5 separate regions of the Homo sapiens genome follow, and all the other regions are reported to be linked to region 1. Evidence: microRNA targets listed by miRTarBase, many of them from high-throughput screens and not tested one by one. Region 1 holds a microRNA gene; each other region holds the end of a gene's coding sequence.

What was found. Region 1 holds the annotated microRNA hsa-miR-1270 (CUGGAGAUAUGGAAGAGCUGUGU, at 1,075-1,097, shown strand). A microRNA usually pairs through its seed, bases 2 to 8, with sites in the 3' UTR of a target mRNA and lowers its output. Matches are read on the target gene's strand: a 7mer-m8 pairs with bases 2 to 8, a 7mer-A1 pairs with bases 2 to 7 and ends in A, and an 8mer does both.
Region 2: miRTarBase lists PDE4DIP as a target of hsa-miR-1270. The part of its 3' UTR that is shown has no 7-base or 8-base seed match.
Region 3: miRTarBase lists RBM8A as a target of hsa-miR-1270. Seed matches in the 3' UTR shown: 7mer-A1 at 3,366-3,372.
Region 4: miRTarBase lists TMEM41B as a target of hsa-miR-1270. Seed matches in the 3' UTR shown: 7mer-m8 at 1,272-1,278.
Region 5: the mRNA of C10orf105 is a reported target of hsa-miR-1270. Seed matches in the 3' UTR shown: 7mer-A1 at 1,333-1,339 and 7mer-A1 at 2,441-2,447.

What each region holds. Positions count from the first base shown.
Region 1 is chr19:20,396,269-20,400,416 of GRCh38, reverse strand. It overlaps MIR1270 (microRNA 1270), which reads left to right and starts at 1,063; the gene lies at 1,063-1,145. It overlaps LOC124904660 (putative zinc finger protein 826), which reads left to right and starts at 2,404. Exons shown (of 1, transcript XM_047439794.1): 1 at 2,404-3,170. The coding sequence starts at 2,559. The coding sequence ends at 3,092. It also overlaps the pseudogene ZNF826P.
Region 2 is chr1:149,031,504-149,035,651 of GRCh38, forward strand. PDE4DIP (phosphodiesterase 4D interacting protein) reads left to right here. Exons shown (of 47, transcript NM_001395426.1): 47 at 441-1,513. The coding sequence ends at 482. Among named protein-coding and RNA genes, the nearest start is that of NBPF9, 70 kb to the right of the region's middle. RefSeq lists an enhancer at 1,972-2,471.
Region 3 is chr1:145,922,163-145,926,310 of GRCh38, reverse strand. RBM8A (RNA binding motif protein 8A) reads left to right here. Exons shown (of 6, transcript NM_005105.5): 5 at 134-270; 6 at 384-4,148. The coding sequence ends at 429. It also overlaps the pseudogene GNRHR2. Among named protein-coding and RNA genes, the nearest start is that of LIX1L-AS1, 2.6 kb to the left of the region's middle.
Region 4 is chr11:9,280,011-9,284,158 of GRCh38, reverse strand. TMEM41B (transmembrane protein 41B) reads left to right here. Exons shown (of 7, transcript NM_015012.4): 7 at 566-3,505. The coding sequence ends at 735. Among named protein-coding and RNA genes, the nearest start is that of TRL-CAA5-1, 6.8 kb to the right of the region's middle.
Region 5 is chr10:71,712,654-71,716,653 of GRCh38, reverse strand. C10orf105 (chromosome 10 open reading frame 105) reads left to right here. Exons shown (of 2, transcript NM_001164375.3): 2 at 312-4,000. The coding sequence starts at 317. The coding sequence ends at 718. CDH23 (cadherin related 23) reads right to left here. Exons shown (of 70, transcript NM_022124.6): 28 at 3,841-3,989. Among named protein-coding and RNA genes, the nearest start is that of C10orf105, 5.1 kb to the left of the region's middle.

The DNA of each region.
Region 1 (4,148 bases):
CTCTAATATTTGGTATACATTATAACCTTTGATTGAGATTAGGACATTAACAAAAAGCTACCTGTTACAGTCTTTATAATATGGCTCTGTCCTGGCATAGTCTGAAATCAATTGTCTTGACTCTAGATTCTGAGAATTCCTCAAACATGTTTTTAAGGTGTGTCTTGTTTAAAATTTTATGTTTATTGTTTAGTTAATAATAAGTAATCATTCACTACACCCATTCCCTGTTTGGGTTACTGCAGTTTCTCTGCTTCTCTATAATTTACCTTCAGACTCAAAGTGTCATTCTAACATATATCACCATTTTTTTTGGCATTTTGTGTCATGGGACATATCAACTAGTGTCTAAAAAAGCCCCTAGAAGCCAGAAATAAAGATGTATGTGTCAATATTTTTCTTGTTTTTTAAAAAAGAAACCAGGAGTTGGCAATTTACATTTTTGTGTGTATGTGTGAGACAGAGCCTCACTCTATTAACTAGTCTGGAGTGCAGAGGCATGACCTTGGCTCAGTACAATCTCTGCCTCCAGAGTTCAAGCAATTATCCTGCCTTAGCCTCCCAGGTAGCTAGGATTACAGGTACCTATTACCACCCCTGGCTAATTTTCTGTATTTTAGTAGAGATGAGGTTTCACCATGTTGGTCAGGCTGATCACCTCTGGTTGTCCTCCATCTTGTTCACCCAAATTGCTGGAATTACAGGCATGAGCCATCATGCCTGGTTGGCAATTAACTTTTTTTTTTTAATTTTTATTTTTTGTGGTGGGGTCTCACTCTGTACCCAGGCCAGAGTACAGTGGTGCAATCTCAGCTTACTGCAACCTCCACCCCCTGGGTTCCAGCAATTCTCATGCCTCCGCCTCCCCAGTAGCTGAGATTACAGGTGCCCATGACTAAGCCTGGCTAATTTTTTGTATTTTTAGTAGAGATGGGGTTTCACCATCTTGGCCAGGCTGGTCTTGAACTCCTGACCTCAAGTGATTCACCCACATCTGCCTCCCAAAGTGTTGGGTTTACAGACACAAGCCACCACACCAGGCCAATAATTTACTTTTAAAGGCACAGAGTTATACTGGAGATATGGAAGAGCTGTGTTGGGTATAAGTAACAGGCTTTTCTTTATCTTCTATGTGGCTCTTTGCATTGTGCTCACCTGGGACCCTTCACACACTTAATTCACTTATACATTTTTTACAAATTGTATTTTGGTCAGTATGTTTTTGTTACATTTATATGTCCAGGAAGAAATTACAGCTTGTGGTATTTTGCCATGTCATCTTCCTTAGGTAGTCTGTGAAATTTTATAGGTTAGATTTGTAAAATATATTTATCTGAGTCTAGCAGTTGAAGTGTTGTGTTTTTATTGTCTCTTTCAGTTATTTGTTCTCATTTTGCCCAAGAACTTTGGCTAGAGCAGAACATAAAAGATTCTTTTCAAAAAGTGATACTGAGAAGATATAAAAAATGTGGACATGGCAATTTACAGTTAAAAAAAGGATGTGAAAGTGTGGATGAGTGTAAGGTGCAAAAAAGAGGTTATAATGGGCTTAACCAATGCTTGACAACTACCCATTGCAAAATATTTCAATGTGATAAATATGTGAAAGTCTTTCATCAATTTTCAAATTCAAACAGACAGAAGACGTACTGTAAAAAAACCTTTGAAACATATAGAATGTGGCAAATCTTTTAACCAGTCCTCAACCCTTACTACACATAAGAAAATTCATACTGGAGAGAAACCCTACAAATGTGAAGAATGTGGCAAAGACTTTAACTGGTACTCAACCTTTACTACAGATAAGATAACTCATACTGGAGAGAAACCCTAAAAATGTGAAGAATGTGGCAAAGCCTTTAAGTACTCCTGTACCCTTACTACACATAAGATAATTCATACTGGAGAGAAATCCCACAAATGTGAGGAGTGTGGCAAAGCCTTTAACTGGTCCTCACAGCTTGCTATTCATAAGATAACTCATACTGGAGAGCAACCCTACAAACGTAAAGAATGCAGCAAAGCTTTTAACCATCCCACAACCCCTTCTTCACATAAGAAAACTCATACTGGAGAGAAACCATGCAAGTGTGATAAATGTGGCAAAGCCTTTATTTTTTCCTCAACCCTTAGTAAACATGAGAAGATTCATACTGGAGAGAAACCCTACAAATGTGAAGAATGTGGCAAAGCCTTCAGATGGTCCTCACACCTAACTACACATAAGATAACTCATACTGGAGAGAAACCCTACAAATGTGAAGAATGTGGCAATGGCTTTAAGTATTCCTCTACGCTTACTGAACATAAGATAATCCATACTGGAGAGAAATCCTACAAATGTGAAGAGTGTGGCAAAGCCTTTAACTGGCCCTCACAGCTTGCTATTCATAAGATAACTCATACTGGAGAGCAACCCTACAAATGTAAAGAATGTGGCAAAGCTTTTAAACATCCTGCAACCCTTTCTTCACATAACAAAACTCATACTGGAGAGAAACCATACAAGTGTGATAAATGTGGCAAAGCCTTTATTTCATCCTCAACCCTTAGTAAACATGAGAAGATTCATACTGGAGAGAAACCCTACAAATGTGAAGAATATGGCAAAGCTTTCACCCATTCCTCACACCTTACTAGGCATAAGAAAATTCATGCTGGAGAGAAACCATACAAGTGTGATAAATGTGGCACAGCCTTTATTTTATCCTCAACCCTTAGTGAACATGAGAAGATTCATACTGGAGAGAAACTCTACAAATGTGAAGAATGTGGCAAAGCCTTCAACCATTTTTCACACCTTACTATACATAAGACAATTCATACTGGAGAGAAATGCTATAAATGGTATAAAAACCTTTACATGGTCCTCAAGCCCCCATAAACATAGGAGAACTCATACTGGAGAGAAACCTTACAAATGTGAAGAATGTGGCAAAGCCTTTACTGCATCCTCAACTCTAAGTGAATATAAGACAATTCATACTGGAGAGAAACCTTGCAAATGTGAAGAATGTGGCAAAGCTTTTAACTGGTCCTCAGACTTCAATAAACATAAGAGAATTCATAGTGGACAGAAACCAATACTGTAACAAAGCTTTATTTATTTATTTATCTATTTATTTATTTATTTATTTATTTATTTTTGAGATGGAGTTTCACTCTTGTTGTCCAGGCTGGAGTGCAATGGCGCAATCTTGGCTCACCTTCACCTCCATCTCCCAGGTTCAAGCGATTCTCCTGCCACAGCCTTCCTGTGTAGCTAAGATTACAGGCATGCACCACCACACCTGGCTAATTTTGTATTTTTAGTACAGATGGGGTTTCTCCATGTTGGTTAGGCTGGTCTTCAGCTGCCAACCTCAAGTGATCCACCCATCTCAGCCTCCCAAATTGCCAGGATTACAGGCACAAGCCACTGCACCAGGCTGACAAACCTCTTTGTAAGGAAGTTCTCAACACTTATTACACATAATTCATACTGGACAGAAACCCTACAGGTGTGAAGAATTTGGCAAAGCCTATAACAAGTTCTCAATTTTTTTTTTCTTTTTTTGAGATGCAGTTTCACTATTGTGACCCAGGCTGGAGTGCAATGGCATGATCTTGGCTCACTGCAACCTTCGTCTCCTGGGTAGCTGGGATTACAGGTACCCACAATGACACCCAGCTAATTTTTGTAGTTTTAGTAGAGATGGGGTTTTGCCATATTTGCCAGGCTCGTCTCAAACTCCTGACTTCAGTTGATCCACCCACTTTGGCCTCCTAAAGTGCTGGGATTACAGGCATGAGCCTCCATTCCTAGCCATAAGTTCTCAATTCTTAAGAGACATGGCAATAATTCATGCTGAAGAGGAACTCTACAAACCTGAAAGATGTGACAGTGCTGTTCCCAACACCTCCAACGTTTCTATACATAAAAAAATTATACTAGTGTGAAACTGTAGAAAAGTATAAAATGTGACAAAGCCTTTATTTGGTTGCCACACTTGATAAATATAAAAATAAAAAATTGTTTAAAATTATTTGTATATAGCTTTAAAAGGAGATTTTTGGAAGCATTGTAATTACATTAAAAGTATACTTGTTTTCTTGAAAAAAAGTTTTTCAAAAGTGAATAATGATGTCATACAGCTTTCAAATTACTT
Region 2 (4,148 bases), not on the chromosome of region 1:
ATGGCAACTGGACATAAACTTAACAGAGGGCTTCCCAGCAAAATGTCCTCTTCTTCCTACAAACAGGCTGTTTCTATATGTGCATGTTTCATGCTAAGCACTTCTTTCTTGGGTGGACATGGCAAAGGCCTCTTTCTGCTGAGACAAAGTGATTTGGAGAGTCACCTGGCCCCTGAAGGGGGAGTGGTAGGATCCAGCCACCCAGTGTGCAGTGAATTGGAGCAGGGATCTCAGCACACAGGGAGGTGGGGAGGCTCCCCCTAACCTCGGGCACCTGTTGCTCCTCCAGACTGCAGCGCATGCTCTTAGCTCATCCTCTTAACTGGCTCTCACCGTGCTCCTGGCTTTGGTCACCACGTAGCTCTCACTCCAGCTTCAGGTAGCCATCAGTAGGGCCTGGCAATATACACTGATTTGGTTTGTTTTATGTTTGTCTGCAGGTGAAATCCCTAAGGGCTCTGCCATGTACTCCAGCCTTGTGACCCTTGCCTTCCAGGAACCATGCAAGAAGCGCAGCCACCAGAAGTCCTTAAAACAGCAGGAAAGGTGGGCCTGTCCCCCTTTTGTGCAGCTACCTATCTGCTGAGGAGCATCTGGGCCTCATTCCTCCAAGTCCACGGGAGGGTCCAGAAGAGGGAGTCAGAGATGTATCCTGGTGGAGCTGGGAGAAAGGCAGAAAGCCTTTCTGACGGCTATGGAATACGATTAGCCAAGGTCCACTTGGCCCAGCACTAAGAAAAAGATGCGTAGTTTGCACAGAAGGTTTTGTGATCCTGCCTCTCAACAGCCCCAGCAGCTTGGGAACTAGCAAGAGCACATTTCTTGCCTCATCAGCTGTCCTGAGATGGAAAACTCAGTGAATATAGGACCCTGATTCCGATGAAAGGGGCACGTGGTCCCAATGCTGGAGCTCCTCTGGCAGGTTCTAAAAGCACACTACTGAGCAGCGGTGCCCTGCCGGACACTGCTGGCGGGGGCTCAGTGAGCACTACTCACAGATCCACACCTGACCCTGTTGGGTCGAGTCAGGCTGGGCCTTGGTCTGCACTGTAGCACCTGTGTTCTTTGAGTTCACATCATGAATGTGGTGACTTCCCAGATACCATCTCAGGCTTAACCTAGCACATCCTATTTCTTTTCTTCTATGATATCCAAATTGGACTGACCTCACTTCAAAGTTGCTGTCCCATTTTGTCACCCTATCTTATCTCGGGGAAATTGCAGACTGATGGCCAGACCAACTCTGTTGAAATTCTTGCATAGAGCAAACCTGTGCTCATTTTTAAGTGGCATGGGAGAGGCCCCAAGCCTAGTAAAGCCTAGTCTGTGTCTTCACAGTGCTGGTAGAATGTGTTTGTGTGTATAAATATATGATATAGATTTATATATGTTGCTAACGCCATATATTGAAGGCCAACATAACTGGTGGACAGGGTGGGTGACAGAAAATGAAAGTCTTTTTGGTGATTGTTAAAGCAAAATGTGTATAAAGAAATAAATAGTTTTTCTTTCACTGCTTTGTTTCCCATTTCTGCACCAATCCCTTGACAGTATAAAGAACTGGAAAGAGAAAATGGGAAAGACAAACTGTGTTTAAGAAGCATATAGTCTAATGCTTGAACTCTAACTTTAAAAGATTAAGGTTTTCCTTCTTTGTCATTTTGTAAGAATCCCCAGTCTGAAAATATGAAAGAATGGTTCTTAAACTTGGTGTGCCTGAGAAGCAGCTGTGGAGATTATAGGAGCTACCTCCTGGTCTCCAATCCCAGGAGATTTAGTTGGTGTGAGCCCTAGAATCTGCATTTTTTTAATATAAGCACCCCAGGTGATTCCATTACATGTGGGCTTCAGATCACAGTTTAAAAAACAGTGTTCTATAACATTGAATCAAAACTAAAACTACATTTAAGAACCTTGAATCAAAAAGTATGTCATTCCATAAACATTGATATAAAAATTTTAAAATATTCCTTGGGAAAAGTTCTTAGCTACATGCTTTTGATTCCCAAGATTAAAATAAGCTATCACTTCACAATTATGTACTAGAAACATTTAAAAAATAAAAACAGGTAGAAGGTGGAGTAAGATGGTAGAATAGAATTCTCCAGCAATGGTCTCTCTGAAGGAACATCAAATTAAACAACTATCTATGTAAGAAAACACTTTCACAAGGGCTAGCCAGGTGAGAGATCATAGCACCCGCTTTTAACTTGCTAACAAGAAAAGATGCATTGAAGAAGGGAGGAAGGACAGTCTTGCATTGCCTATGACACCTCTCCCCCAACCACAGGAAATTCTCTGAGAGAGAATCTAATGGCTTGGGGACAAGGGGGAAAGTGTGAGACTTTATATTGAAACTTAGTACCAGTCTTGCCATAGTGATACACGGCACTGGGCAGAACCCCACAGCACTTGATTCCAGGCTGGTGCCCACAGAAGAAGCATTTAGACCCACCCTGGGCCACAAGGGAACCAGCTGCCCCAGCAGGAAGAACCCAGCAAAGTTCTGGCCGGCTTTATCACTGGAAATTTCTTGGGCTTCAAATAAATTTCAGTGGCAGGCAGGCTGTAGTGGCCGCAGTCCTTGGGCAAGCCCTGATGCTGCATAGGTCTGGAACACCCTGGACTTGTGGTGTGAGCCAGTATGATGGCAGCAGCTGCAGCAGCTATGGGAATGCCTGTATCACCCCTCCCCACACTCCAGGCAGTGCAGCCTGAAGAGAGGTTCCTCTTGCTTGGGGGAAAGAAAGGGAAGTAAGCTAGGGGCTTTACCTGGGAATGCGGAGAACAATCCCTGATCTTCCCCCAAGTCCACAGGGCTGGGGACCTAGGAATCGGTAAGAATTGCAGTGTACCTGGGCCTAGGGTGCCCTGTAGTACAAAAATGGCTGCAGTGATCACTGGCTTAGGGAACTCGTCAGCCCACTTTGAATTCCTGGAAAGTCCTCTGAAGGACAGGTACAAACAAGACCTGACTGCAAAGGCTGGAATAAATACCTTATCCTTCAATGCCCAGATACTGACAAACATCAACAGTATCAATAACATTGAAGCCAATATGACCTCAACAAATGGACCAAGTAAGGCACTCAGTGACCAACCCTGGAGAGATGGAGACGTGTAACCTCTCAGGGAATTCAGAATAGCTATTTTGAGAAAGCTCAATGAACTTCAAGAAAACACAGAGAAACAATTCAGAAATATATCAGAAATTTAACAAGATTACTGAAGTAAGAGAAAAAAATCAAATGCTGGAGCTGGAAAATACATTAGTGGGTCTCAGTAGAATTGATCAAGCAGAAGAAAGAATTAGTGAGCATGCAAACAAGCTATTTGAAAATACAGTCAGAGGAGAAAAAAGAAAAGAAGAATGAGCAGGAACACAGAATGCTTAAGAGATCTAGAAGAGGGCCTGAAAAGAGAAAATCAAAGATTCATTGGCCTTAAAGAGGGACTTGAGAAGGAGCAAAGAGTAGAACACTTATTCAAAGAAATAATCTTTTTTAAAAAAAAATACTTTAAGTTCTAGGGTATATGTGCACAACGTGCAGGTTTGTTATATAGGTGTACGTGTGCCATGTTGGTTTGCTGCACCCATCAACTCATCATTTACATTAGGTATTTCTCCTAACGCTATCCCTCCCCCAGCCTCCTACCCCACAACAGGCCCCGGTGTGTGATGTTCCCCTCCCTGTGTCCATGTGTTCTCATTGGTCAACTCCCACTTAAGAGTGAGAACATGCGGAGTTTGGTTTTCTGTCCTTGTGATATTTTGCTGATAATCACAATTTCTAGCTTCATGCATGTCCCTGCAAAAGACAAGAACTCATCCTTTTTTATGGCTGCATAGTATTCTTTGGTGTATATGTGCCACATTTTCTTTATCTAGTCTATTATTGATGGACATTTGGGTTAGTTCCAAGTCTTTGCTATTGTGAATAGTGCCTCAATAAACATAGGAGTGCACATGTCTTTATAGTAGCATGATTTATAATCCTTTGGGTATTCACCCAGTAATGAGATTGCTGGGTCAAATGGTATTTCTAGTTCTAGATCCTTGAGGAATTGCCACACTGTCTTCCACAATGGTTGAACTAATTTATACTCCCACCAAGAGTGTAAAAGCGTTCCTATTTCTCCACATCCTC
Region 3 (4,148 bases), not on the chromosome of region 1:
AGTAGAGATATATGATGTACATTCATTGTTTAAAGTGTGTAGATTTTTCTGAGTTTAGATTTGAGGAAAAAGATACTCAGTGATACTTGGGGAAATAGGAGGGTTTTCATATCTGTCTTTTCACTTTCCCCAGGGGTATACTCTAGTTGAATATGAAACATACAAGGAAGCCCAGGCTGCTATGGAGGGACTCAATGGCCAGGATTTGATGGGACAGCCCATCAGCGTTGACTGGTGTTTTGTTCGGGGTCCACCAAAAGGCAAGAGGAGGTAAAATGAAGAGGGCAAATACTGTCTGGGTGAAGGGAATACGAACGAAACAGAATGAGGACTTAGTATTATGTCCCTCTAATGGACTCCTCTCCCTGCTTCTTTTTCCCTAGAGGTGGCCGAAGACGCAGCAGAAGTCCAGACCGGAGACGTCGCTGACAGGTCCTCTGTTGTCCAGGTGTTCTCTTCAAGATTCCATTTGACCATGCAGCCTTGGACAAATAGGACTGGGGTGGAACTTGCTGTGTTTATATTTAATCTCTTACCGTATATGCGTAGTATTTGAGTTGCGAATAAATGTTCCATTTTTGTTTTCTACATTTAATGTTACTTTCCTGTCCTAAAATTGAAAGTTCTAAAGCATAGCAAGGCTGTATGGATCATTGTGAAGATACTTCTAGGGACTGAACTCTATGTATTTCTTTTTTTTCTTTTTTTTGAGATAGAGTCTTGCTGTGTTACCCAGGGTGGATTGCAGCTGATCATAGCTCACTGCAGCTTCAAACTCTTGGGCTCAAGCCATCCTTCTGCCTCACTGTCCCTAGTAGTTGGGATTACAGGCACATGCCACCATGCCCAGCTAAATTTTTAATATTTTTGTAGAGATGGGGTCTTGCTGTGTTACCTGGGCTAGTTATGTGAGTTTCTATATTAGACATAGTCTCAAGTTTCAGGTAGGGTTTAAAGTAGAGACACTGGTCAGTATTTCTTTTTTGGGGGGAACTAGGAGAGCAGGAGTAGAAGTGAGATGTTAAGATCTTATGGCACTAAAGACTTACTATTCTGTTCCTACATACTCTGTTAGGATCAGATAGATGTTATAGAAATGCCTTTTGTTTCTCCTGCCCTTCTTGATGTCACAGTTTTTTGTACTTCCAGCTGTCTAAAGGCATGAATCTCCTCTTGGAGCATTCTCCCAGACCCTTCTTTAGAAGAGTCTATACTAAGTTCTTGGTGCCCTCTTCGGCAGCCAAGGGTGAAGGCCCCATAGAGGAGAGGATCCAAAGGAGCATTGAGGAGGCCCAAGAGGAAAAGGATGTGGCTCAGGCTGGGAGGGACTTCAGTTAGCATGGTGGGGGAGAACCAGTACCACATACCCAGTAGGTAATAAGGTGTCCAGCAGAGGATGAAGGTCAGCAAGATAAGCAGGGCCAGTCTCAGGGCCCGGAGACGAACACGGGGACAATTGTCAAAGGAGCGGGGGAGGGCAAATTCACCAGCAGGGGCTAGGAATTTAGAAAATATACTGTAATTCAGACACTCAGCTTCTGATCTGAGTATAGGGTGAATTGATGGAGGGGCATAGCTAGTGAGACAGAGCTCGCCTCCTACAAGGAGGAGAATGTTGCAAACCGTTTTCCCCTTCCCAACCTGGGACTATATGATTTCTTACCCCCAGGGATTATGATAGAAATATGAAGCCACCAAGTCTAGACTTGATGGTGTTCAAGAATAAATAATACTGATTGCCTCCCTAGTCCTTGTCCAGCTAACTCAGCTGTTTATAATTGAAGGGATTCAACAAAATTATCTCTAGCATCAGGTGCTAGACATGGTTAGAATCTCACCATGGTTTAGTGACTGGTAGATAGCTATTAGGTAGGTAGATAAATAAATGATGCTAGAGGCAACAGGTCTAGGGTTAAGGATTAAGGCCTGGGAATTGGAGTCTCACCATGGCTCCCCTTCCTTGTCTGGGGCCTGGACACACTGAGGACAATGCGGCTATAGCAGATGGCCATGGCAGTCAGTGGCAGCAGAAAGAGGCAGCAGAAGGTGAAGAGGTTATAGGTGGTCTCTTGCCATTGAGCCTTGAAGCTGCCTTTGGTGACACACTGAGTGAAAGGGACTGGGCCAGCTCAGTGGACCGTGTGGAACAGGAACAGCTGGAGTGGAGTTGAGGACTATTAGAACTGGTTCCCCTCACCACCCAACCTACCCACCTATGTCATACTGTCTCCTCCCAATTCATCCTTAATTCCAAGTGAAGCAGCACAGTGCTGAGAAACAGTTCATCCATGGTGCCATGTTAAAGAAGTTGGAAATATATCTTGAAAATCCTATCTTCCTTTTAGGCTTGAATATGATGCTGAACAGTAAGTTTGTTAAATCTTGGAACTTAAAACAATCCTGCTTTCTCAAGTACTATTCTAACATTGCGCTTTATAAGGGATGATATTTCTACCACCTCACTCATATTTTTAGCTGAAATGATTTTCCTGGTATGTCTGTTATTTTGTGGAAAAAGAAATATTGTGTAAAATGGGTGCTGCCAAAATTCCAGGCCATTTTGCAGGGACTCTGAAGTGACCTTTAGTAGTAATAGTCTTATGTGCAGTAACTATAATGGTAAAGAATGTTAAATAATAAAATTTAACATTTTCCAAATGCTATTGGGCTGCCCCTCCCCCTTTTTGTTAAATTGCTGGGTTTTCCAACTGAATCAGTAAAAACTATTTCTGTTTAGAGCTACAAGGTTAAAGTGCCTGCTTTCCAGTAATGGAGATTGAGTCACTATTAATTTGATAAAAGGTAAGCTCAGTAGGCATCAGATTCCTAGATACAAGGCATTTGGGAAAGTGATTTTAGCAGACATGAGGGACATTTAGGAAAGATGAATAGTTTCAGCCTAAGAGAATTTTGTGAACTGTTTGGAGTTACGATCAGGCTACTCTGAGCTAGTTGGGAAATGGTCTTTCCTCTTCCCATCTCTTGCATTCATATATTTCTAAGTTTTTTTTTTTGTTTTTGTTTTTGTGCTCTGCCTAAGAAGTGCTTGAGAATTGTGAGGAGTATAAAAATAGTCAAAGCTGGCTGGGCGCGGTGGCTCACGCCTGTAATCCCAGCACTTTGGGAGGCTGAGGCGGGCGGATCACGAGGTTAGGAGATGGAGACCATCCTGGCTAACACAGTGAAACCCTGTCTGTACTAAAGATACAAAAAACTAGCCGGGCGTGGTGGTAGGTGCCTGTAGTCCCAGCTACTTGGGAACTCGGGAGGCTGAGGCAGGAGAATGACCTGAACCCAGGAGGCGGAGCTTGCAGTGAGCAGAGATTGCGCCATTGCACTCCAGCCTGGGCGACAGAGTAAGACTGTCTCCAAAAAAAAAAAAAATAATAATCAAAGCTCTTGGATTTATAGTTTGGTCCACAGCCTTGTTTTGATCTTTCCTTTATCCTGTTTTATTGCCATTTACCACGTACTGTAGAAACATCCCTTTCAACTGCTGATAACTTGGAAACAAGCCTACAAAAATAAGTAATTTCTAACTACTCCTAATACTACCTATAACTACCCCTAAGCCCTTACCACTCTAACGTGACATTATTAAATTTTTTATTTTATTAACACTAATATTTTAACTACAATTACAGCATATGGGCAATACAGAATTTACCTAAAAGGATACTAATTTGGAACAAAAAAAATCACCTTTCGCACATGTATCATGTCACAACCAGTTTGCCATTGAAACAAATAGAGGTTGCAAATATTGTCAGATTGTCAGGCTGTAAGAAAGGATGAAATTCATTTCCCATTGCATCATCTTGTGGCCCATGGATTTCAAGTGCCTTAGCCAAAATCATATAGCTAGTTAGCAGTAGAGCCGAGACTCAGAAAAAAACAAAGTAAAACAGGCAGACTGAAACAAAAAGTCTTCTAATTCCCAGTCCACATGTAAAATTTGCTTCATATAAACAAACCTAATTGTAAATGGCACTGTAGCAACAGGCTTCTTTTTAACACTTGGATTGGTAAAGGTCTTGTTTGCAACATATTAGAAGTATTATTTTTCTCTTTCCCCCCCACCCCACCCCCAACAGAGTCTGGCTCTGCCGCCCACGCCGGAGTGCAGTGGTGCAGTCTTGGCTCACTGC
Region 4 (4,148 bases), not on the chromosome of region 1:
AAAACAAAAGCATTTTTGATAAATGTAAAACTATTTTCTGGGCCCTTTTCTTGCGTTTTTAAAATTCATTATTCTGGCCAGGTGCAGGGGCTCATGCCTGTAATCCCAGCACTTTGGGAGGCTGAGGTGGGCGGATCATCTGAGGTCGGGAGTTTGAGACCATTCTGACCAACATGGAGAAACCCCATCTCTACTGAAAATACAAAATTAGCCGGGTGTGGTGGCACATGCCTGTAATCCCAGCTACTCGGGAGGCTGAGGCAGGAGAATTGTTTGAACCCGGGAGGCGGAGGTTGCAGTGAGCCAAGATCGCGCCATCGTGTTCCAGCGGGGGCAACAAGAGCGAAACTCCGTCTCAAAAAAAAAAAAAATCATTATCCTTAAGAGGTGATTAGGAAAGATTGAATTCTTTATATGGAAATAAACTTGAGCTTTAAATTCTTAATTTTTTTTCCAAAATGGAAATAGCTGTGTTGTTTTAAGAAACTTTATGCACACAGAACATTTTAATTTTTTAAAAACAATTGCGGTGGTTTTTACTGTATCTTTTTATATTTTATTTCAGGTGTCGCACCTCCTTCTTTTGTAGCCATTAAGGCAGGAACAACACTGTATCAACTTACAACAGCAGGAGAAGCTGTTTCCTGGAACTCAATATTTATTCTGATGATCTTGGCTGTTCTTTCTATTCTGCCAGCCATCTTCCAAAAAAAACTAAAGCAGAAATTTGAGTAAAAATAATCATCTGATTTTTAGTTTTGCTGTCATCACCATCTCAGGATTAACAGGTGCATCCATTTATGTTTTAAAATCACCTCTTCAGTAATTAAACAAGGAATTTGTAAAATAAAATTTCCTATCAGATAGTTAAAGTAATACATTTAAGTGACAAGGGGAGAAGAAAGTAAAAATGGAAATTGGTATACTGTGAAAAGTGCTATCAATAGTTAAGGTAGACATCTTAGACATCTTATAAATTATTATACCAAGGGTAGCTGTAGATAATAGTAGTGTGGTAGGAAATTGTTGATCCAGCTAATTCATTCAATTTAATTGAATATTTTTTATCTTTAATAACTAAAATAGATATTTTTAAATTCTAGATTTTTTAAAGTAGTGTTGCAGGTTTTGTTAATGTTAGGCTTTTTTCAGAGCATAAACTGGAAAACTTAAAAAGAGATTTACATTTTCTTCCTCTTTTTTTTTTTTTTTTTTTTTCTGTTTTGAGACGGAGTCTAGCTCTGCCGCCCAGGCTGGAGTGCAGTGGCGCGATCTCCACTCACTGCAAGCTCCACCTCCTGGGTTCACGCCATTCTCCTGTCTCAGCCTCCTGAGTAGCTGGGACTACAGGCGCCCGCCACCATGCCCAGCTAATTTTTTTGTATTTTTAGTAGAGACGGGGTTTCACCGTGTTAGCCAGGATGGTCTCGATCTCCTGACCTCGTGATCTGCCCGCCTTGGCCTCCCAAAGTGCTGGGATTACAGGCGTGAGCCACCGCGCCTGGCCCATTTTCTTCCTCTTTTGAGGTAATGGATTTGTTTGGAGATGGCATGTTAGTAGACGACTGAATATGGAAAGGATATCAAGTTATCTATTTTGTTAATTTTATTTTTGTTTTTTATCATCTAGATTTTTATCATGGATTAGTCTGAAATTTAAAGTTCTGGCCAGTCGGTTTTCTTTCATCTTGTAGTTTTTACAGTATTTCCACTGTGCATATGCAAAATGGGTATTACATAACTGTATCATATTTGGTATTGATAATTTTTTTTTTTTTTGAGACGGAGTCTTGCTGTTGCCCAGGCTGGAGTGGAGTGCGTGGTGTGATCTCGGCTCACTGCAAACTCCGCCTCCTGGGTTCAAGCGATTCTCCTGGCCCAGCCTCCTGAGTAGCTGGGATTACAGGTGTGTGCCACCGTGCCCAGCTAATTTTTGTGTTTTTAGTAGAGACGGGGTTTCACCATGTTGGCCGGGCTGGTCTTGAACTCCTGACCTCAGGCTATATGCCCACTTCCACCTCCCAAAGTGCTGGGATTACAGGCATGAGCCACTGTGCCCAGCCTGGTATTGATAATTTATATTCAGATAATTTGTTATGGCTCTTTAATATCCCACAAGGGGCTCTAAAAAGCAAACATTCAAGAGTATGTAGTTTTTAGACATTAAGTTAATTATTTTAAACAGTGACAGCAAAACACAAGTGATTAAATATAGTTTATTTGTTCCAATGACTAAATTTTACCTCATTTATTAATCTGGTCATTAAGGAATATATTTAATAATATTATGTAATTATTCTTTTTATGCATGATACACCTAGAAAAATGCCTTTTGTTTCTATTGATGGCTTTGTTGTTTGGAGCTACTTTTGATTACTTATTGCAGTTTCCCAATTTAGTCTTTACTTTATCTAACTCACAAAGTAAAATTAACTGATCACATGGCAACTACTGTATTTAAATAGTTCTGGAAAAATGAAAGTGCTTTTTGCTGCTTGGTAAATGGGTAATGCCCTTGATTCCTTGACTGTAGGACATAGCTGATCTAAAGTACTCTGTCAGTTTTACCTTCACCCATGACTGTTATTAGTTGTCAAAGTTGAAAAGTACTTTAGCTGTGAGAAATCCTTGTATGTTTTTATTATAAGAGGTATAATCATCCTCAAAGCCTGTTTTTATTACATGATGTGGACTGATTATTTTTTCTATCACAGTGTTAACAGATGGATTTTATTGTAAATACAAAGAAAACATATTGATTATTGTAGTATTCTTATGTCACCTGGCCTTTTGCGTGAGATTATTTATTATTTCTAGCAAGGCTTTCTTCCTTTCTTATTGCCCAGAGACTGACTGATACATCTTTTGTTATTTTTACACATAAATTAAACATAGCCTTTTTGGACAAATTCACTAAATATTAATGTATAAAATGTAATTGAGTAAATTTTTATCAGAATTTTAAAAATAAAAGAGCTTAGACTCAGTAGAACTCAGTAGAAGCTTCACTATTTACTCCAGCGTGTGTAAATTGTACTTACTCTATTCTCAGAGTATATTTACTGTCCTTACCATTGATTCTTTCCCTTTGCTAATTTTTTTTTTTGTTAATGGTAGCTGCGACTTTAGGTGGGGTATATTTTCTTCTCCTAAGAGAATAGACAGTTTTTCCAGATTCATCATCATTGACTGTCAAGAAAGGACCCTTCAGCAAGGCTGTACCCTCAATGCAGTTGATGGCCTGTCTTCACGGATTTACAGACTTGGCCTGATGCCCATGTAAATTCAAGCTTTGGCTTGTGGTAACAACCACAAGAAGACAAGCATCTGTGGTGCGGAGGCAAGCAGGCTAACTAGGAGTTGACAAGCTAAGAAAGTGAAACTGTTCTTTCTTAGTTAACTGTCTTTCTCTGGAGCTCTGTTATTTTGAGTATAATATTTCCATGACACTTAGTAAATGCAAGCTAAAATGTAATAATAATAAATTGTATTGGAGAAACCTAAATGTCACATTTGGGATTTATTTCATGGAAGTACTTACATTAAAAAACTCTGGCCGAGCAAGGTGGCTCACGCCTGTAATCCCAGCACTTTGGAAGGTCGAAGCAGGTGGATCACCTGCAGTCAGGAGTTCAAGACCAGCCTGGCCATCACAGTGAAACCCCGTCTCTACTAAACATATGAAAAATTAGCCAGGTGTGGTGGCACACGCCTATAGTCCTAGCTACTTGGGAGGCTGAGGCAGAAGAATTGCTTGAACCCAGAAGGTGGAGGTTGCCATGAGATGAAATTGTGCCACTGCATTCCAGCCTGGGCAACAGAGCCAGACTCTGTCTCAAAAAACTAAAAACAAACTCTTCGTTGAATAAAAGTATATTCTTAAATTTCGATGTACATTTTCACCACTAAGAACAATGAAATGGCCGGGCACGGTAGCTCACACCTGTAATCCTAGCACTTCCAGAGGCCAAGGTGGGTGGATCACCTGAGGTCAGGAGTTCGAGACCAGCCTGGCCAACATGGAGAAACCCCGTCTCTACTAAAAATAAAAAATTAGTTGGGTGTGGTGGTGTGCACCTGTAATCCCAGCTACTTGGGAGGCTGAGGCAGGAGAGTCGCTTGAACGCGGGAGGCAGAGGTTGTAGTGA
Region 5 (4,000 bases), not on the chromosome of region 1:
GTGATGATTCATGAGGATTGATTTGAAAATGCGGACAGGCCACCGCCCTCTTGTCTGCATGGCAGATGGGCACAGGGTGGAACAGGAAGAGGGCCTGAGCTTGGGCCCAGCTCCATCACTGCTCAGCTGTGTGTACACTTAGACTTGTGATGTCTCTGGACCTTGCTGTCTTAACCTGTGATGTGGCCATGATGCTGTCCAGTTTAACAGTGCCTTGCCCCCATCCACATTCCCTAGGTAAGTCTTCCCTATACCCGCTGCCCTGGGTCCAGCTGATCTGCCTTTGAGCTTCTGTCTTGTTGCTGTTGCAGGAGCCATGAGCACAGAGGGCCCCAGCCTCGCCAGCTCCCCAGCCATCAGCCCCCTCGCCTTTCTCTCAGCTCCCGTCACTCCCGGGACCCTTGCAGAGGCAACTGACCCCCTCCCCATGCTCATCGCCCTGGCCTGCATCTTCCTCCTGCTGGCCACCTGTCTGCTGTTCATGACGCTCTGCAAGCCGGCCGCGCTGGACCCGAGCCGCCGCAGGGCTCACGAGTGCATGCCCCACCACCCTGGGAGCCCCAGTGAGCCCCAGCTCCGGCTCTGGAAGCGCCTGGGCTCCTTGCGCCTCTCCCTGCACAGCTTCCGCCATGGCCGGCCCACCGTCCCTCGACAGCCCCTGCCGGGCCCCGAGGACAACCGCAGCCACTGTGACTACATGGAATCTACCAAGATGTAATGGGGTGTCCACAAACATGCCCCCACATCCCCCTAGGTCTACCTGTAGATCCTCCTGCTTCAGAGACCGGTGCTGCAGGCTGCAGGAAGACAGTGGCCCAAGCAGTCTGGGACACACACTCACCCCCCGAAGCTCCTTGCATGCCCAGGCCAGCGCCCTTTCCCAAAGATGATCCTCAGAAGAGCACCTTCCTCTCTGCAGACCCCCTCGCTGCTGCTTGATGAAAGACTTCTGGTCAAGAGATGTGCACTCGTGGTCATCTGGGCCTTTGGCCTGAGGCTCCACAGGGTACAACCTGGGGCTCGTAACCACCTCCTAGAAGCAGCACCCTCGCTCGCCACAGAAGCCTTGCCCTCCAGGTGCCAAAGCCCAGCATGGAGAAGTTGCCAAATGGCAAAGGTTCCCTTTAGTCAAGTGAAATGCTCAGCCTACACCGGGGCCAAGACACTGTCCTGGCATCTGTGCTGGCCCAGTGCTGGGGCAAAACCTCGGGGCTCTCTTCCTTGGGTTTCCCGGGTGCTGCCAGCATCTGCCTGGTGCCCTGTGGGAGCAGCTGCCTCCCTCCTGGTGGAACAGATGCCTGGGTGCCAGCTGGGAGGAGGAGCAAACAGGGCTCTCCAAGCATGGTCTTGGCAGCCGTCTTGGTGGCCCCTCTTCAGGGCACCCACGTTGGGATCAATCAGGAAGGGATTGAAGATGATCGAGGAGGCTCCCTTCAGAGGCCAGGGCGGGTGCTGTGACAGAGTGGCAAGAGGCAGGGCATTTCCAGCAGCTGGAGGTGATGCCACCTGGACTCGGAGGAGGACAGCTCACAGCAGCTCCACACCTCACCCAGGGAAAGCGGCAGCCTCCCCGAGGGTGGGATGGTCTGGACCTCTCCAGGACAGCTGTGGGGTCCCAAGTCCTGCCCACACTAGGGATGCTATCTGTGGTTTTGGTGAGTGCTTTGCTGATGACCCGTCAAAGCAGTCCCACCCCAGGATGGGCTTCTCAGAATCCCAAACCCTTGACCTCTCCTCACAACGCGAGGGTTAAACACTTTGGTCAGGTCCCAAATTTGAAGGGTGGGCAGAGGGAGGACCTGGGCTGCCCAGCTCCTGTCCCAGTCAGCTGGCCAGGATCCCACCACAAAGCTGCCCCACCCCCATCCTGCTGTGACCCACAGTGCAGCCAGCCACGTCTCCCCAAGGAGTGAGCTCTGGCTTGCCACTCCCCAGCTCCAAAACCTTCACTGGCTCCCTAATGCCAAATGGATATAGCCAAAGCTCCTCAGCGCAGTGTGCAGTGCCCTCTGGGAGCTGGCTCCAATTAATCTTTCTAGCCTCATCTTGATCCAAAACTCCAGGAAAACTGAAAGACCTGTCACCCACTAACTGTGGCTTATGCTTCACACACACCCACTCTGTGAAGCCCTCCTGCCTGGAGCCGCCCCTACTGTCTCCTACCTCTCTTGGGGAGGAAAAGGAACATTCTCTTGGCAGCATGGGTCCTTTTTGTCTATGTCTTCTCTTTCCTACCAGCTTGGGAGCTTGCAGAGAGCCAGACATTGTCCAGCCCCTCACTTTGACTCCCCAGTTCTGTGCACAGAAGTATGAGGCTTCTGTGTACAGAGTGAAGCGTGGCCCAGCCTGGGTGTGTCCCCACCCTCTGAGGCAGGAGTCTTGGTGGAAGCTGGCATAACACAGAGCCTCATCTTCCCTCAGATGACTCTAGAAAGATTTCTCTCCAAGCAGGCTCTATTGGAGAAGCCCACTGTCCCTTCCTTCCAAGTCAATCTGATCTCAAAAAGTGAGTCCGGCTTCACAAGAAACTTACCAAGAGGACCTTGGAGAAGTCATCCTGAGACGCTGCATTTCTCCCTGAGAAATGGGAGAACTCAGGGCTGCCCTATATTAACTCGCTGGCTCTAGGATTTCAGTAAGAGTAGTATTGTGTAAATAGAAACCAAGTCTTTGGGTTTAGAAAGTGGGGCAGGCCTCCTCCCTAAGGGTTTTGTTCCTTCCTCCCTTCCTGCTCAGTAACCTCTTCCTGGTTTGCTTCCCCTGGGGCCTCCCTGCAAATCCTAGGCTGGATTCAGCCTGTAGCCATCCACCTCACCAGCAGGCCCTGCTGGCCACTAGGCACTGTCTTCCTGGAGGTTGGGGTGGGGGTTGAGGCTGCCCTGAGGCCTGAAGAAGGAAAAGTCCAGGAGGGGGAGGGCTCTCAATTGGGTTTCAGGCACCAGGCCAGGGGGGTATGCTCCAAGTCCTCACAAGCTGAGGCCCTGATCGAGAGAACCCTCTACTTCCTCCTTCTGGAGCTAGCCACCACACTCTCGCAAATCCTCAGGGCTTTCTGGGCTCTCTGTGTTTCTGGGAGTCAGCTCCCTGCTCCCCAGCCCTTTCCTGCCCGCCTCCTGGTCCCGATGCAGGGAGGGGAGCATTGCCAGCCTCCCACGCTTCTGTCCCTCCCAAGCCCGGGAGCCTGCCCCAGTGGGCAGGCCCAGATTCCCTGTTTGGCTCAGCCTCCGAGTCGGAAACCCCATAGTTGGTAAAGAGACTCATTCACTCCGGGCCTCCCTCCCCACCCAGCAACTGAGGCCTCTGGGCAGAGGTGTGGGTGCACACCCAAATTGTTTTCAGGGTCCTCCCTTCTCTCCCTCTGAGCCTTGGAGCTGTTGCGCCTGCTCCCTGGGCAAAGGAGCCCTTTCTTCTTGTGCCTGTTTACTTCCCAAGAGGGGAGCCTCGGCCAAGGGCTCTGTGAAAGCAGCTCTGTTCTGGGCCTTGCTGGGCCCTGGCTCTCTTCTCAACTCCTTTCCGGGAAATTGTGACGTCTCTTTCTCCCCGCTACTCTGAAAGGCCCTTCTGGGTGGGGCGGGAGATATGCAGGGGGAGGCCAAGTCTTCCTCCTGTTTGTGGGGAGCCAGAGCCCTATCCTCAGCTCTGCAACCTGGGGGCCCACACTCCCTGGGATGGGAGAGGGCCTGGGTCCCCCTTTCCCCACAGCACCTTCCAGAGCAGCGGACCCACCCTGGGCCCCCACCTGCTTCCGCCTCTGGTGCCACTGAGCATGTGCCCTCAGGGCCGTGTGTGGCTCCGCCTCCCCCAGCCCACCACCTGCCCCAGAGGCCACGGGCCACCTGCCTGCAAGATGCTGTGGCCTTCAGGGATGTCCTCAGGGACGCTGGCCTCATAGCTGCTCTGCAGAAAGATGGGCCGGTTGTCATTCACATCCAGGACAGTGACGAACACGGTGGCTGTGCCCGTGTGTCGCTTCCCTACAGGGCCGTTGTCTGTGGGAGTT